Linked DNA regions of Homo sapiens. The protein of the gene in region 1 interacts with the protein of each later gene in a biochemical or structural test. Each region holds a gene or a part of one and is shown in the gene's direction. Other genes may lie near its edges.

The links. The genes of interacting proteins can lie anywhere in the genome.
Region 2: the proteins of SIPA1L2 (region 1) and SLC22A11 interact in a test that uses a peptide from one of them, tested with the Homo sapiens proteins (one large-scale study listed by IntAct).
Region 3: the proteins of SIPA1L2 (region 1) and SLC15A5 interact in a test that uses a peptide from one of them, tested with the Homo sapiens proteins (one large-scale study listed by IntAct).
Region 4: the proteins of SIPA1L2 (region 1) and SSTR5 interact in a test that uses a peptide from one of them, tested with the Homo sapiens proteins (one large-scale study listed by IntAct).

What each region holds. Positions count from the first base shown.
Region 1 is NC_000001.11:232,511,472-232,515,283, reverse strand, and holds part of SIPA1L2 (signal-induced proliferation-associated 1-like protein 2), read left to right. Parts: coding exon 1-1,427; intron 1,428-3,812.
Region 2 is NC_000011.10:64,569,441-64,572,940, forward strand, and holds the end of SLC22A11 (solute carrier family 22 member 11), read left to right. Parts: intron 1-211; coding exon 212-418; intron 419-1,538; coding exon 1,539-1,602; 3' UTR 1,603-3,435; downstream 3,436-3,500. UniProt on the Homo sapiens protein: Antiporter that mediates the transport of conjugated steroids and other specific organic anions at the basal membrane of syncytiotrophoblast and at the apical membrane of proximal tubule epithelial cells, in exchange for anionic compounds.
Region 3 is NC_000012.12:16,267,686-16,271,185, reverse strand, and holds part of SLC15A5 (solute carrier family 15 member 5), read left to right. Parts: exon of another isoform or gene 1-1,273; intron 1,274-2,360; exon of another isoform or gene 2,361-2,891; intron 2,892-3,500. UniProt on the Homo sapiens protein: Proton oligopeptide cotransporter.
Region 4 is NC_000016.10:1,075,747-1,078,850, forward strand, and holds part of SSTR5 (somatostatin receptor type 5), read left to right. Parts: intron 1-1,877; exon of another isoform or gene 1,878-1,966; intron 1,967-2,711; exon of another isoform or gene 2,712-2,985; intron 2,986-3,079; exon of another isoform or gene 3,080-3,095; 5' UTR 3,096-3,104.

The sequences.
Region 1 (3,812 bases):
AAAGTTCAAGGATCCCCCTAGAATCATGCAGTCAGATGATTATTTTGCTCGGAAATTTAAAGCCATTAATGGCAACATGGGACCCACTACTTCTTTAAATGCCTCGAATTCCAATGAGACTGGCGGTGGTGGTCCGGCTAATGGTACCCCAGCTGTGCCCAAGATGGGTGTGAGAGCAAGGGTGTCTGAATGGCCTCCTAAAAAGGACTGTTCCAAGGAGCTAACATGCAAGGCACTGTGGGAAAGCCGGTCTCAGACCAGTTATGAAAGCATCACTTCTGTCCTGCAGAATGGGCAGAGTGACCAGAGTGAAGGTCAGCAAGATGAACAGCTCGATCTGGACTTCGTGGAGGCCAAGTACACAATCGGAGACATCTTTGTCCATTCCCCCCAAAGAGGACTTCACCCCATAAGACAGAGGAGCAATAGTGATGTCACTATCAGTGACATTGATGCCGAAGATGTCTTAGACCAAAATGCAGTCAACCCCAACACCGGGGCTGCCCTGCACAGGGAGTATGGAAGTACTTCATCCATCGACAGGCAAGGCTTATCTGGTGAAAACTTTTTTGCTATGCTCAGAGGGTACCGAGTAGAAAATTATGACCACAAAGCAATGGTCCCTTTTGGGTTCCCTGAATTTTTCCGCTGTGACCCTGCAATCTCTCCGAGCCTTCATGCAGCAGCACAGATTTCTAGGGGAGAATTTGTCCGCATCTCAGGATTAGATTATGTGGACAGTGCCCTCCTGATGGGGAGAGACAGGGACAAGCCTTTCAAACGGAGGTTGAAATCAGAGTCGGTGGAAACATCTCTCTTCCGAAAGCTTCGAACTGTTAAAAGTGAGCACGAAACTTTCAAGTTCACGTCTGAGCTGGAGGAGAGCCGACTGGAGAGGGGCATTCGCCCTTGGAATTGTCAGCGATGTTTTGCACATTATGATGTCCAGAGCATTTTGTTTAATATCAACGAAGCCATGGCTACGAGGGCTAATGTGGGGAAAAGGAAAAACATAACCACTGGGGCATCTGCAGCATCCCAGACTCAGATGCCTACGGGCCAGACAGGCAACTGTGAGTCCCCTTTAGGGAGCAAGGAGGACCTCAACTCCAAAGAGAACCTGGATGCCGATGAGGGTGATGGGAAAAGTAACGACCTCGTCCTTAGTTGTCCTTACTTTAGAAATGAGACTGGAGGGGAAGGCGACAGGCGGATTGCGCTCTCTCGAGCCAACTCATCCTCTTTCAGTTCTGGGGAAAGCTGCTCTTTCGAATCGTCACTCAGCTCTCACTGCACAAATGCAGGTGTCTCCGTCTTGGAAGTGCCCAGAGAAAACCAGCCTATTCACAGGGAGAAAGTGAAGCGCTACATCATAGAACACATTGACCTTGGGGCCTATTATTACCGCAAATTCTTCTATGGGAAAGGTAAGGAAGAGCCATGGGCGTTTGCATGTGTCTCGGGAGTAGTTTTTTAAGAACCAGTCACAATGTTTTGCTTTGTGTTGGAGCACCTTCCTCAGAGTGTCCAAGGCCATAGTCCACTGGGCCTGACCTTGTTCTCCATCATGGTCCCTCCATAGCTTCCAGGCTAATTTTTTCTTTAGAAAACTGCAATTCCATGCCTTTGTTTATGGGTAGTCCTTAATGTGTAAATGCCCTTTTGGTTTCTCTTTCTGTCATTCTTTGTCTGCCAATTTGTGATCATCACAAATTCAGACTTGATTTAGATTTCATCCCTTGTAAGAAGTCTTCCCTGATTAATTCTGTCCTCCTCCTATTCCTCTGAATAATCTCTTATGCTGCTTACAGTGGAAAATTCTGTGTTTCCCTCACCTCTCTAATCTTTCTGTACTTTGCTTCTCCAGCATTGCTGTATGTGTTGGACATGTTAAATCTTTGTTGAAAGAATGCCTGAATTACCACAACAGACAAATTTTGTTTTCATGTAGTTCTATAGATGGGCTTAAATGTTAAGACACAAGTGATAAATTATTTAATTCTATGTCAAATAAATGGTTTTTGCTTTACGTATATCTTCAGGCTTGAAGGATGCATTCTTCAGAGGTCATGTAGTTGAATCCTCAACCTTTAAATAAGTGTCCCTAATTATCCCAGGGCTAGGAGAATCTTCTCTGATTTAAAGACCTACAGAGAAACAGGTTCCACATGTGTCAGTAACACATGCCGAGGAAAACACTCCGGCACCTCTCACCACCTTCTTATTGGGTGCAGCTGGTGTCCTTCACGCCTTCATTATAGTGCAGCTTACTTTTCAGAGCTATATTTTTCTGTCTTCAGTTTCACCCGTCAGCCCTCTTCCTGCTCCCAGGGATCCAGGGATAACCTCACAGAGTGCCTGAGGAGGCAGAGGGTGGGCCCCGCTACTCTCCTCCTCCTTTTTCTCAGTGCATAAACTATTCTGCTTCTAGCACAGATAGCTGGGAGCTCACTGTACTTTTATTTATTTATTTTTTTTTTTACTTTAAGTTCTGGGATACATGTTCTGAACATGCAGGTTTTTTACATAGTTATACTTGTGCTATGGTGGTTTGCTGCACCTGTCAACCCATCATCTGGGTTTTAAGCCCTGAATGCATTAGGTGTTTGTCCTAAAGCTCTCCCTCCTGCTTATGAGTGAGAACATGCAGCGTTTGGTTTTCTGTTCCTGTGTTAGTTTGCTGAGAATGATGGTTTCCAGCTTCATCCATGTCCCTGCAAAGGACATGAGCTCATTCTTTTTTATGGCTACATAGTATCCATGGTGTATATGTATGGTAGTTTCTTTATCTAGTCTATCATTGATGGGCATTGGGGTTGGTTCCAAGTCTTTGGTATTGTAAATAGTGCTGCAATAAACATATGTGTGCATGTGCCTTTATAGTAGAATGATTTATAATCCTTTGGGTATATACCCAGTAATGACATTGCTGGGTCAAATGGTATTTCTGGTTCTAGATCCTTGAGGAATCGCCACACTGTCTTCCACAATAGCTGAACTAATTTACACTCCCACCAACAGTGTAAAAATGTTCCTATTTGTCCACATCCTCTCCAGCATCTGTTGTTTCCTGACTTTAATGATCGCCATTCTAATTGGCGTGAGATGGTATCTCATTGAGGTTTTGATTTGCATTTCTTTAATGACCAGTGATGATGAGCTTTTTTCATATGTTTGTTGGCCGCATAAATGTCTTCTTTTGAGAAGTGTCTGTTCATATCCTTTGCCCACTTTTTGATGGGGTTGTTTTGTTCTTGTAAATTTGTTTCAGTTCCTTGTAGATTCTGGATATTAGCCCTTTGTCAGATGGACAGATTGCAAAAATTTTCTCCCATTCTGTAGGTTGCCTGTTGCCTCTGATGATAGTTTCTTTTGCTGTGTAGAAGCTCTTTAGTTTAATTAGATCCCATTTGTCATTTTTGGCTTCTGTTGTCATTGCTTTTGCTGTTTTAGTCATGAAGTCTTTGCCCATGCCTATGTCCTGAATGGTATTGCCCAGGTTTTCTTCTAGGGTTTTTATGGTTTTAGATTTTAATTTCATCAGTATTGGTTTCTGTCTTGAGAATATTTGTGTAATTTTTGACTGTAGTTTGTTTTATTGGAGTGGGTTGGGGAGGGTGGGTAACACAGACCTTAGGAGGTCACTCTGTCCACTTCAGTCCCTTATAACGTTAAACCACTGTGAAGCCTGTTTATTACTTTTTCTCATGGAGTATAGACTTAAAAGAATTTGTCTGCCAGATAAATTGTGATTATTAATAATTCCCCCTCCTGTTTTTGCATCAATCCAGACTTAGCATGTCTTTTGTAAT
Region 2 (3,500 bases), on another chromosome or scaffold:
GGGAAAATGAGGTGGGCCCTAGAGATTTCCCCTGAAACACTAGATGCAAAAATCTGGGTGGGCTCCGTGGAGGAGGTGGCATTAGAGGAGGCCTTGAGGAGGGCAATTCCCTCAGCCCAGCTTTCCTTCCCCTGGCATCTGTGAGCCCAGGATGTCTTCCTGCCACAGGGCCAGCTGTTACAGGGATCTGGGCCCTCCCCTTCACCCACAGGATGACAGCAGATGGCATTCTGCATACAGTGGGCCGGCTGGGGGCTATGATGGGTCCCCTGATCCTGATGAGCCGCCAAGCCCTGCCCCTGCTGCCTCCTCTCCTCTATGGCGTTATCTCCATTGCTTCCAGCCTGGTTGTGCTGTTCTTCCTCCCGGAGACCCAGGGACTTCCGCTCCCTGACACTATCCAGGACCTGGAGAGCCAGTGAGTGACCTGTGATCCCTGGGCATCGGGCTGGGCTTCCTCCTGGGCCAAGATGGAGACAGGCCTGGGCTGCCCAGGGCAAAGGCTCAAGAGTACCAAGGCCTGTGTTTCTGAAACCATTTAATCTTTCCAACAATCCTGCCAGAAATGTATTATTACTATCCCCATACTATTACTAGGGTCAGAGAAAGAAAGTGACTTATCCAAAGTCTCATGGGTAGAAAGTGATCATACCTCATGCAGGAAAATGTAATGGTTGAAAGCCCAGGCTTGGCAGCCAGGTTGCCTGGGCCCACGTTCCCCACCTGCCTGGGCAAGTGACTTAACCTCTCTCACCAAAACTGACAAAGGGAGATACAGATAGTCTCAACTGTCCTAGTGCAATTTTCCCACAAAGAATTTCAGGCCCAGACAGATCAACAGGTGAGTTCTTTCAAACCCTCAGAGAACAGATGGTGCCATCTCACACCCATTCTTTGACAGGGAGAAATGAGGGAGCACTCCCTGGCTGCATTTTATAGCCAGAACCACTTCTGTGGGCTTTAGCCTCCTCCTTTGTAAGATGGTGTTTAGAAAAAACAAACAAAACCCAGCCTGGCTCACAGAGTTGTTTTCAAGTTTAAGGGAAGTATTATTTTAAAGCACCTGGGAAAATGCCAGGCCTGCAGCAAGCACTCTGGACATGTGGTTATTGTGTCCTGGGTGACTGTTCACAGGGCCGCCTCAATTCTGATGGTGACCGAGGTCACAATGATAGTAATAATACTGAGTTCTTATTGTTTTATGTCACCTTATTTAATCGATACAACAACCACATGAGGTGCTATTACAGTCCAATTCCTTTGCCAAGGAAACTGAGATGCAGCAGGGTTATATAACTTGCCTAAGGACACCTGCAGAGACCCGGAGAAGCTGGGACTTCATTTTTTCTTTAATTTAATTGATTTTTGTTGTGTACCTACTATGTTTCAGGCACTGTCCCGCTTGGGTACACAGAAGGGAGTAAAAGCCTAATGCCATAGAGTTTACCCCCCAATAAGACTTGACCGCCATTTTGCCCCAAGCTCCGAGTACATACCCACTTCACCACATGGCACTGCTTTTCTTTGGATTATTCTAGGAAATCAACAGCAGCCCAGGGCAACCGGCAAGAGGCCGTCACTGTGGAAAGTACCTCGCTCTAGAAATTGTGCCTGCATGGAGCCCCTTTAGTCAAAGACTCCTGGAAAGGAGTTGCCTCTTCTCCAATCAGAGCGTGGAGGCGAGTTGGGCGACTTCAAGGGCCTGGCATGGCAGAGGCCAGGCAGCCGTGGCCGAGTGGACAGCGTGGCCGTCTGCTGTGGCTGAAGGCAGCTTCCACAGCTCACTCCTCTTCTCCCTGCCCTGATCAGATTCCCCACCTTACCCGGGCCCTACAGGAGCCTGTGCAGATGGCCATGCCCAACCAATAACGAGACGGTTCCCCTCCCTTTCCCTGCCAGGCTCATGTCTTTACACCTTCACTCAGCCACGCCAACCAGAGACTGGGTTCCAATCTCACCCCACCACATACAGAGCCCTCATCTGTGAAATGAGAATGATCACGTGACCCACCCCCCAGGGCAGGTATCAGGGTGAACTGATCTTAGCACCGGCCAAATAAATGGAACCTGCTGAGAGAGCTGCCAGATACAGGTGTCCAGGTTGTGCACTGGCCCGAGGCACGCAGCCAAGGAGGCGTGTGGGGTCTGAAACTCAGCCCCGGCTACACTGGCCCCACCACCCACCCTAGCAAAGGCTGTGTCCTCTCCAAAAAAAGGAGCTGTTTTAATCACTTTTCATTTACTCATCAGTGAGGGAGGGCTTCCAGCCCTATGGTTACGAAGACGGCCAAACACACCACCAAACACCAGACAGAGGAGGCTGGCAGCAGGTTACCACACACGTGCGCAGAGCCCACGAAGATGACGCTGCACTGAGGCATGGGGCGGGGTGCACTGAGGATCCGAGCGAGCAGCCAGGGCTGCAGGAAGGCAGCTTTGGAGCACAAAGGGGGTGGGGCAACTCCTGGCTTCTGCGGGAAGGTGTAATCAGCTTGTTTCATCATGCTGCAGGCTGGCGAGAAACGGAGCCTTACAAGCGTAGGGATAAGAGGAACCCCTCTTGGTCCCCTCGATGAGGGTTGTTGGGCCGGGGAGCCTCATCCACAGGGCGGAGTGAAAGGGGAGAAGGGGAGCTCACAGGCAGGCCTGCCAAGGCCTTCTGGCTTTGCCAGATGTCAAGGGCAGCACCTAATACTGAACCTTAACTTTCGGCTTTCAACCAAACGGCACCCTTTTGCTGTTTGTTTTCTGGAGGGGACACCTTTTCTTGATTCATGCCCAGACCTCCCTTGTCCAGGCCATGAAAACTCTGGGATGGTCGAGGCCGGCTGCCCATCTCAGATGGGCAAGGAAGCAAAAGTGCAGAGTGGTGGAGGGGCCAGCTTGCAGAAACACGGCCGAACCCGGCCCTGATCCTAGCCCAGGGCTCTTTCCAGCACAGGAGGCTCCTAGCCCTCGTCTCCAACCCTCCATGCCACTGATATCTGTGGCCCTGCCACAAAGTTACCCTCATGCCCTTCCCTGGAGACCCCACTCTGGGCCACCTCAATCTCAGGCCCCTCAACTCACCTCTTTCACCCTGTGTACACTGGGTCAATCACTCCTGCCTCCTCACAGCTCCCAAATCCACCTACTTCCCTTCACTCTGGCTACACCCTGGTTCACACCACGGTTGTAGCTCCAAACTGGTCCCTGATGTCTACATTGCACTCTGCACAACAGCCACCATGCTTATTAAGAAACGCAATCCAAACCAAATCCCTCCCTGCTGAAAGCCCTCCAGTGGCTCACAATAAGGATCACACTTCTCCCCCTGCCTGGTCAGGCAGCCATGGGACCCCAGCCTTTCCTCCCACTTCGGTAAATTTTAAAGGATTCGGATCATACAAAGAATGTTCTTGAACCAGCATGGAATTAAATTAGAAATCAATTATGGAAAGAGATATAGAAAACCTCTTCAAACTATACAACACACTTCTAAGTAACCCACGGGTCAAAGA
Region 3 (3,500 bases), on another chromosome or scaffold:
CCTTTGGGAAACAGAGGGGACTCCCACTGGGTGTGTGCTTTAGGGCTTCAGGAAGGGGGATGGGGAATGGGGTGAAAATGAATTTCTGCAGCTGTAAGGAACCAGGCCAAATTTAGGATGAACATATTTAGATTTTTAAAAATTATTTTCTGATTTCACTAAACAGCTCACTATTTTAAAAATTTAAAGCATCTAGAAATGTGTATAAAGAATCAGGCTGTTATTTTTTAATGTGATAAAAGAACTGGATGGTAAGATCCTTGAAGGCTGAATCTGGTTGTCTTGCCTTTTTTTATTTTTCCAGTTTAAATACTAAACTACAGGCCAACTTTTATGAATGTTCACTTACCTTACTGCAGTTTATAGCAATGAATGCTGATTCCATTCCTGTACACAGTGCGGGGGCTGGTGACAAGATGGACAGAGACTCCACTGGGCAACCAGACAGCTGGCAGAATCCTGGCTCTGTCACTTAGGAGTTTTATGGTCTTTGGCAAGTTCCTTAATTCCTCAGAGCCCCAGGTTCCTCATCCACAAAGTGGGAATATCTTGGAGAGCTATTGTATCACTTATATATAAAGTATCCTAGCATATTATAGGTATCAAATTATGATAGCTATTGTTATGATTATTGCTAAATCATGGATAAGCCATCAGCTGAAACCATTGTCTAAATGCTGGGAAAGAGGGAACCCATTTAGGAGGAGGTCATCTTTGAAAGGAGCAGTTTATTAATGTGTAATCTATGTCTTCCAGTCAAAAATGCCTCTAGAAATTACAAGACTGGTAAATATAACGAATTTCAGCCGTGCCTTTAAAAAACAACATACCCCTTGAATCTGTAACCACTTGAAGGCTTTATTCAGTCCTATTTGCAGCACAGATGTCAGATGTTCATAGTTATGGGACCTTTAATGAGATGTGTCATTGCTTCTATACCACCTAAAGCTTCCCAATGATCATGTTAAGTAGCATAGACTGGAAGTCTCAGGCACTGAAAGCACCACTTCCGAGTAAAGCTGCCAAATGTAGGTGAGAAAACCACTCCCAGCCAACATTACCATCTGGTACTGGATCTTCCTCAACTAATGCACCTCACTACAAAAATAAAGCTAAACTCCCTGAAATCAAGAGACATAATAATCTGCCAACATCCTTGTGTCATTATCCAGATCAGAGCCTGGCTTTCCACATATTCCAAAAGCTGAGATGGACAATTAAGAATCGCCATACTGGAGATCACCTAGGTAAATACACCTGTGCAGATTCTTTTCTGGAAGCAAAAAGAAGGAGGATAATGAAGTCTGTTCCTGGCCACAATTTTAAATTCTACCACAATTAACCTCAAATCTTGCTTCTGCATTTCTCTACTTTCTTCACCTGATAATTTGCATCCTATCTGCATATCACAGTCTGTTGCTAAGGGGTTACTAGGGTGAATTATATACATGATTAAAAGCCCAAATAGAATATTGGTAAAGTTCTTGAAGAAAGTCTAGAGACTGACTTATTTCACCCCAGAAATGTTGACTATCTGGTACTCAAATTGACTCTACATGGTATCTGAAATATTCTGATTTTAACACTTACTCAAATTAAATATATTTTATCTTAGGGAAGCACTAGAGGTAAAAATGTATTATCCCACAGCATTTTTCCAGAATCTATTTTAATATTCACAAGAACATTGAGAACAATGATTGTCAATCCTAGGTGCATATTAAAGCCACCTGAGGATTCTTTTTTAAAAAGTACAAATGCCTGGGTCCTGCCACCAAAGATTCTGATTACATTGGTTAGAGGTAGGATCCAGGGACCAGGATTTTTTAAAGCTGCCCAGTTAGAGTTGAGAACCACTGTTCCAACGCAGTGTTGCTCATTTTAATTATCACTTGAGAACCTTGTTGAAAATGTTTCCCAGGTCCCACCTCGAACCTCCTGGATCAGAATTTTCTGGGAGGACAGGTGGGAAATGCATATTTTAAACAAGTACTGTCTTAGTCTATTCAGGCTGCAATAACAAATCAGCAGAGATTGGCTGGCTTATAAATAGTAGAAATTTATTTTTCACAGCTCTGGAGGCCAGAATTCTGAGATCAGGGTTCTGGTGAGGGTTCTCTTCCTGGCTGTAAGACTGCTGGCTTCTCACTGTGTCTTCACATAGTGGAAGGGGCAAAGGAGCTCTCGGAGGTCTCTTTTATAAAGGAACTAATCCCATTCAGAAGGGTTCCACCCCTATGAGCAAAAGCCCCACCTCCCAAATACACCACTCCCTAATACCATTGTTATAGGAGGTATAACACCTAATACCAAGTTAAGATTTCAACATATGAAATTTGAGGGGACAGAAATATTCCTACCATATCAAGTACTTCAGGTGATTCAGAAGAACAAAGTTTGAAAACAACTCCAGAGCCATAAGGAAAATCTAGTGATGCCTTTGAAAAGAAATGAAACTAATCATTGATTGAACCCACTACTGTGTTTCAGACTGCTTTGGAACTTTCTGACAATTTTATAGCAATTATCTCACATTTAGAAATCTGCCTGATTGAGAAATTCAACATAATTCTGAAAAGAGAGAGAAAAAAATATAAATCTACATATACTCTTCAATCGTAAAATCATAATTTATAAGGTACATTTCAGCAAACAAAATCAAAGCAGTTCATGAAATAATCTTATTAATACTCAAAATGTCCTTTGAGTTGCATGCTGAGGAGTAGTAGCTTGTAAATAGCTATGAAAAAATCACCAGACCTTCCCAAATTCTATTTGCACTGGCTCTAGCCAAGTTTAACAAATGCTACCCTCTCACCCTAATAACAACAAGCACTTCCTTCTTTACCTTTGCGATCTGAGCTCACTGCAACCTCCGTCTCCCGGGTTCAAGCAATTCTCCTGCCTCAGCCTCCCAAGTAGCTGGGACTACAGGTTCATACCACCACGCCAGCTAATTTTTTTGCATTTTAGTAGAGATGGGGTTTCACCATGTTGCCCAGGCTGGTCTCAAATCCCTGAGCTCAGGCAATCTGCCCACGTTGGCCTCCAAAGTGCCAGGATTACAGGCATGAGCCACAGAGCCGGGCGCATGTTCTCTTTTAAGCTTGAAAGGTACATGAGTCAGGACAACTGTTAAAATTTGGGTGTTGGCCAGGCACAGTGACTCACACCTGAATCCCTGGGCTCTGGGAGGCCTAGGCAGGAGGATCACTCAAGGCCAGGGGTTCGAGACAAGCCTGAGTAACCCCATCTCTACCAAAAAAACATTTTTTTTTAATTACCCAGGCATGGTGGGGTGAACCTGTAGTCACATGTACTTGAGAGGCTGAAGCGGAAGAATCGCTTGAGCTCAGGAGGCTGAGATTACAGTGAGCTGTGAACACCCTGCACCAGTCTAGTCTGGGTGACAGAGTGAGACCCTATCTCAAAAAAAAAAAAAAAAAAAAAAAGGTGGGGGGTGGGCGGGGGTTGTTGGCAAAAGAATGAGGGAATGGGAA
Region 4 (3,104 bases), on another chromosome or scaffold:
AATGCATGCTCCACAGGCAGCCAGAGGGAGCCGCAAACATGGCGTGTTGGATTTCCATGCTGGTCCCTGGGGAGCGGAGAGCCACAGGCCTCTTCCCCTCCCTCTCCCTCTCCCTCCCTCCCTCTCTCCCCCTACCCTGTCTCTCTCTCTCCCCCCCCACTCTCTCTCCCTCCCTCTCTCCCCCCACCCTGTCTTTCTCTCTCCCTCCCCACCTCCCCCTCTCTCTCCCTCCCCCTCCTCCCCCTCCCTCTCCCCCCACCTTTTCTCTCTCCCTCCCCACCTCCCCCTCCCTCTCCCTCCCCCCTCACCTCCCCTCCCTTTCCCTCCCTCTCTCCCTCTCTCCTCCCCTCCCCCTCCCTCTCCCTCCCTCTCTCCCTCTCTCCTCCCCGCCTCCCCATCCCTCTCCCTCTCCCTCCTCTCTCTCTCCCCCTACCCTGTTTTCTCTCTCCCTCCCCGCCTCCCCCTCCCTCTCCCCCATACCCTATCTTTCTCTCTCCCTCCCTGCCACCCCCTCCCTCTCCCTCTCCCTCTCCCTCTCCCTCTCCCTCCCTCTCTCCCCACACCCTGTCTTTCTTTCTCCCTCCCCACCTCCCCTCTTCTCCCACCCCGGGGTCTGCGTGGAGGCCACTGCTCCGTCCCTGCTGAGGATTCTGCTGCACTCTGGCTCCTGCCTGTGGGAATCCGTCCTGTCTCTCTGGCTGGTGTCTCTCTGGCTGGCGTCCCTGCCCAGATGCCGCAGCTTGATGGGGATGCTCTTTCATTCCTTTATGCTGCTTGGGACAGGTGCGCTCCCAGAAGGGATCCTGTCGCCAGTTCTGGGGGAGCCCAGCCATGCTCTCCCCCTGCCCACCCCACAGAGCCCTCTCTGGACCTTGTGCCAGCACCCTGCTCCAGTGAATCTTTCAACCCTCTTCCCATTCACCAATTCTCTCTTCAGTGCTGTCCACACTGGAGTTGGTTCTGACCACTTTTGTAGTGTTTTTTTCCACTTAAATGATTGTATTTTTTACATCCAGGATTTGTAATTTTTAAAAATAGATGCCTGTTCATTTTACTCCTTAGACAGAAGCCAAATGTATTTCCTAACATTTTATCCATGCTGTCTCTGTGGATCCTGCACATATTTAAACATAGCCTAAGCGTACCTGTTTGCTCGTTATTTTTATCTCCCTGAGATGGATCCATGGGTCCACTGGCCCTGTTGATTTTCTGAGTCGTATTTCTTAGTGTGTTTGGGCCATGCGAGCTTGGGGATGTTGATTTCTAGGTTTGTTGGGGACAGAGGGCTTTCTCTTTGTGCTGTCAGCCTTGTGTTCTGGGCTCCCCCGTCCCCAGCTCTCCTTTCCTTGTCTACCAGATTTCAGTGGCCTTGGCCCAGCCCCACAGCCCCCAGCCAGGACTGTGGCCTTTCCTGGCAGCTGCTGGGGTCGTCCTGTGCTCTGAGGTGCCTCCAGGGTCAGGGCCGGTCAGCTGAGCAGCCCCAGGGCTCCAGACGGCACATGCTGAGGTCACCACAGCCGGCTCCACCCCTGCTCAGGCCGAGGTCCCCCAGGGAGGGGCTTGTCCCTGGTCTGGATCCTAGGGGACACTTTGATTCTCTGCTGGCCACCCCCAGAGTCACACAGCTCCAGGGTCAACCCAAACATCCGGACTTCCTCCGCCCCACTCGTCAGGGGAGGCATTGATCTTCTTTTTGAGACAGGGTCTTGCTCAGTCACCCAGGCTGGCGTGCAGTGGTGTAATCACAGCTCACTGCAGCCTCAACCTCCTGGGCTCAAATGATCCTCCTGACTCAGCCTCCTCAGTGGCTGGGACTACAGGCGCCCGCCACCACACTTGGCTAATTTTTGTATTTTTTGTAGAGACGGGGGTCTCACCATGTTGCCCAGGCTGGTCTTGAACTCCTGTCCTCAGGTGATCCACCCGCCTCGGCCTCCCACAGTGCTGGGATGACAGGCTTGAGCCACTGCACCCAGCCGGAGTATCATTTTTATGAATGATTTCAAACATGCAGAAAAATACAAAAACAATATACGAGGTACACACGTGCCCATGGCCTTGGACCCACAGACGTCACCATTCCCAGCCCACCCTTCTCCATGGACACCCCTCCCTCCCCTCCCCCAAGTCTCCCCTGTTCTCTCTCTGGGCCACAGTGGGGGGTTCCAGGGCCTGGGAGGGGGCTCAAAGCTCCGATGGGACTGGGCAGTGTCAGGTGGCTGCAGCCCCCATACGCTATGCCTCTGACCCGCCCACACCCCCCACCGCGGCTTCTCCTCCGGGCTGCAGGGTGTGCAGCCCCCGCCCGCAGTCCCCCCTCCTTCGCCCTGTGTGACTCCTGGGGCTCCGTGTGACCACTCTGTGTGGTTTGTGTGTTTGCTTCTCTGCAGCCGCCCCGTGGGGAGGGTGGTGTCTCTCTGGCCCTGTGCTGTGCCCCCGCCTGGGTTTACAGATGTCTGTCATTGCTGTGGGGGTGACGGTCCCTGCGCTGGCCTGGAGAGAGGTTCGGGGCCAACGGGCAGCGGGCACCCCGGTGAAAGTCCCTCGAGGCTGCGGTGGCGACACCACGTCCAGCCACTTCTCAGGTCGTCCTAGCCAGGTGCCATTCATCCCAGGCGGACAGGGGGCCGACCACCGGCCCCATCTCTCTCCACTGCCACCTCTCCCTGTGTGTCCCGGGAGGGGCCGCCCGCTGGGCCTCGGCTCCTTACCTGGTAGACGAGGGCAGCAGCACTGCAGGGCAGGCTCTGAGGGGCTTCAGGGAGACGCAGGTGCTGGCCTCAGACTCCAGGATGCTGCGGCCAGGCCAGGCGCCATCTGGGTGCAGGGGCGGCCACAGGGCAGCTGTCGCCATATCGACAGCAGCCGTCCGTCTGGGCTCCCGGGGCCACCTGCCCGCCGCTCCTTCCTCTCCTGGCTTATTTTCCAAACAATTTGCTTAACGTGATTCCCGGCCAAGCTAAACATGACTAATCGTGTTTACCCGGTGATCCCGCGCCTCCTGGCAGGCGGGGCTGGGGCCCAGGAGGAAGGAATGCCTGCATGTGCTGGTTCAGGGACTCACCACCCTGGCGTCCTCCCTTCTTCTCTTGCAGAGCCTGACG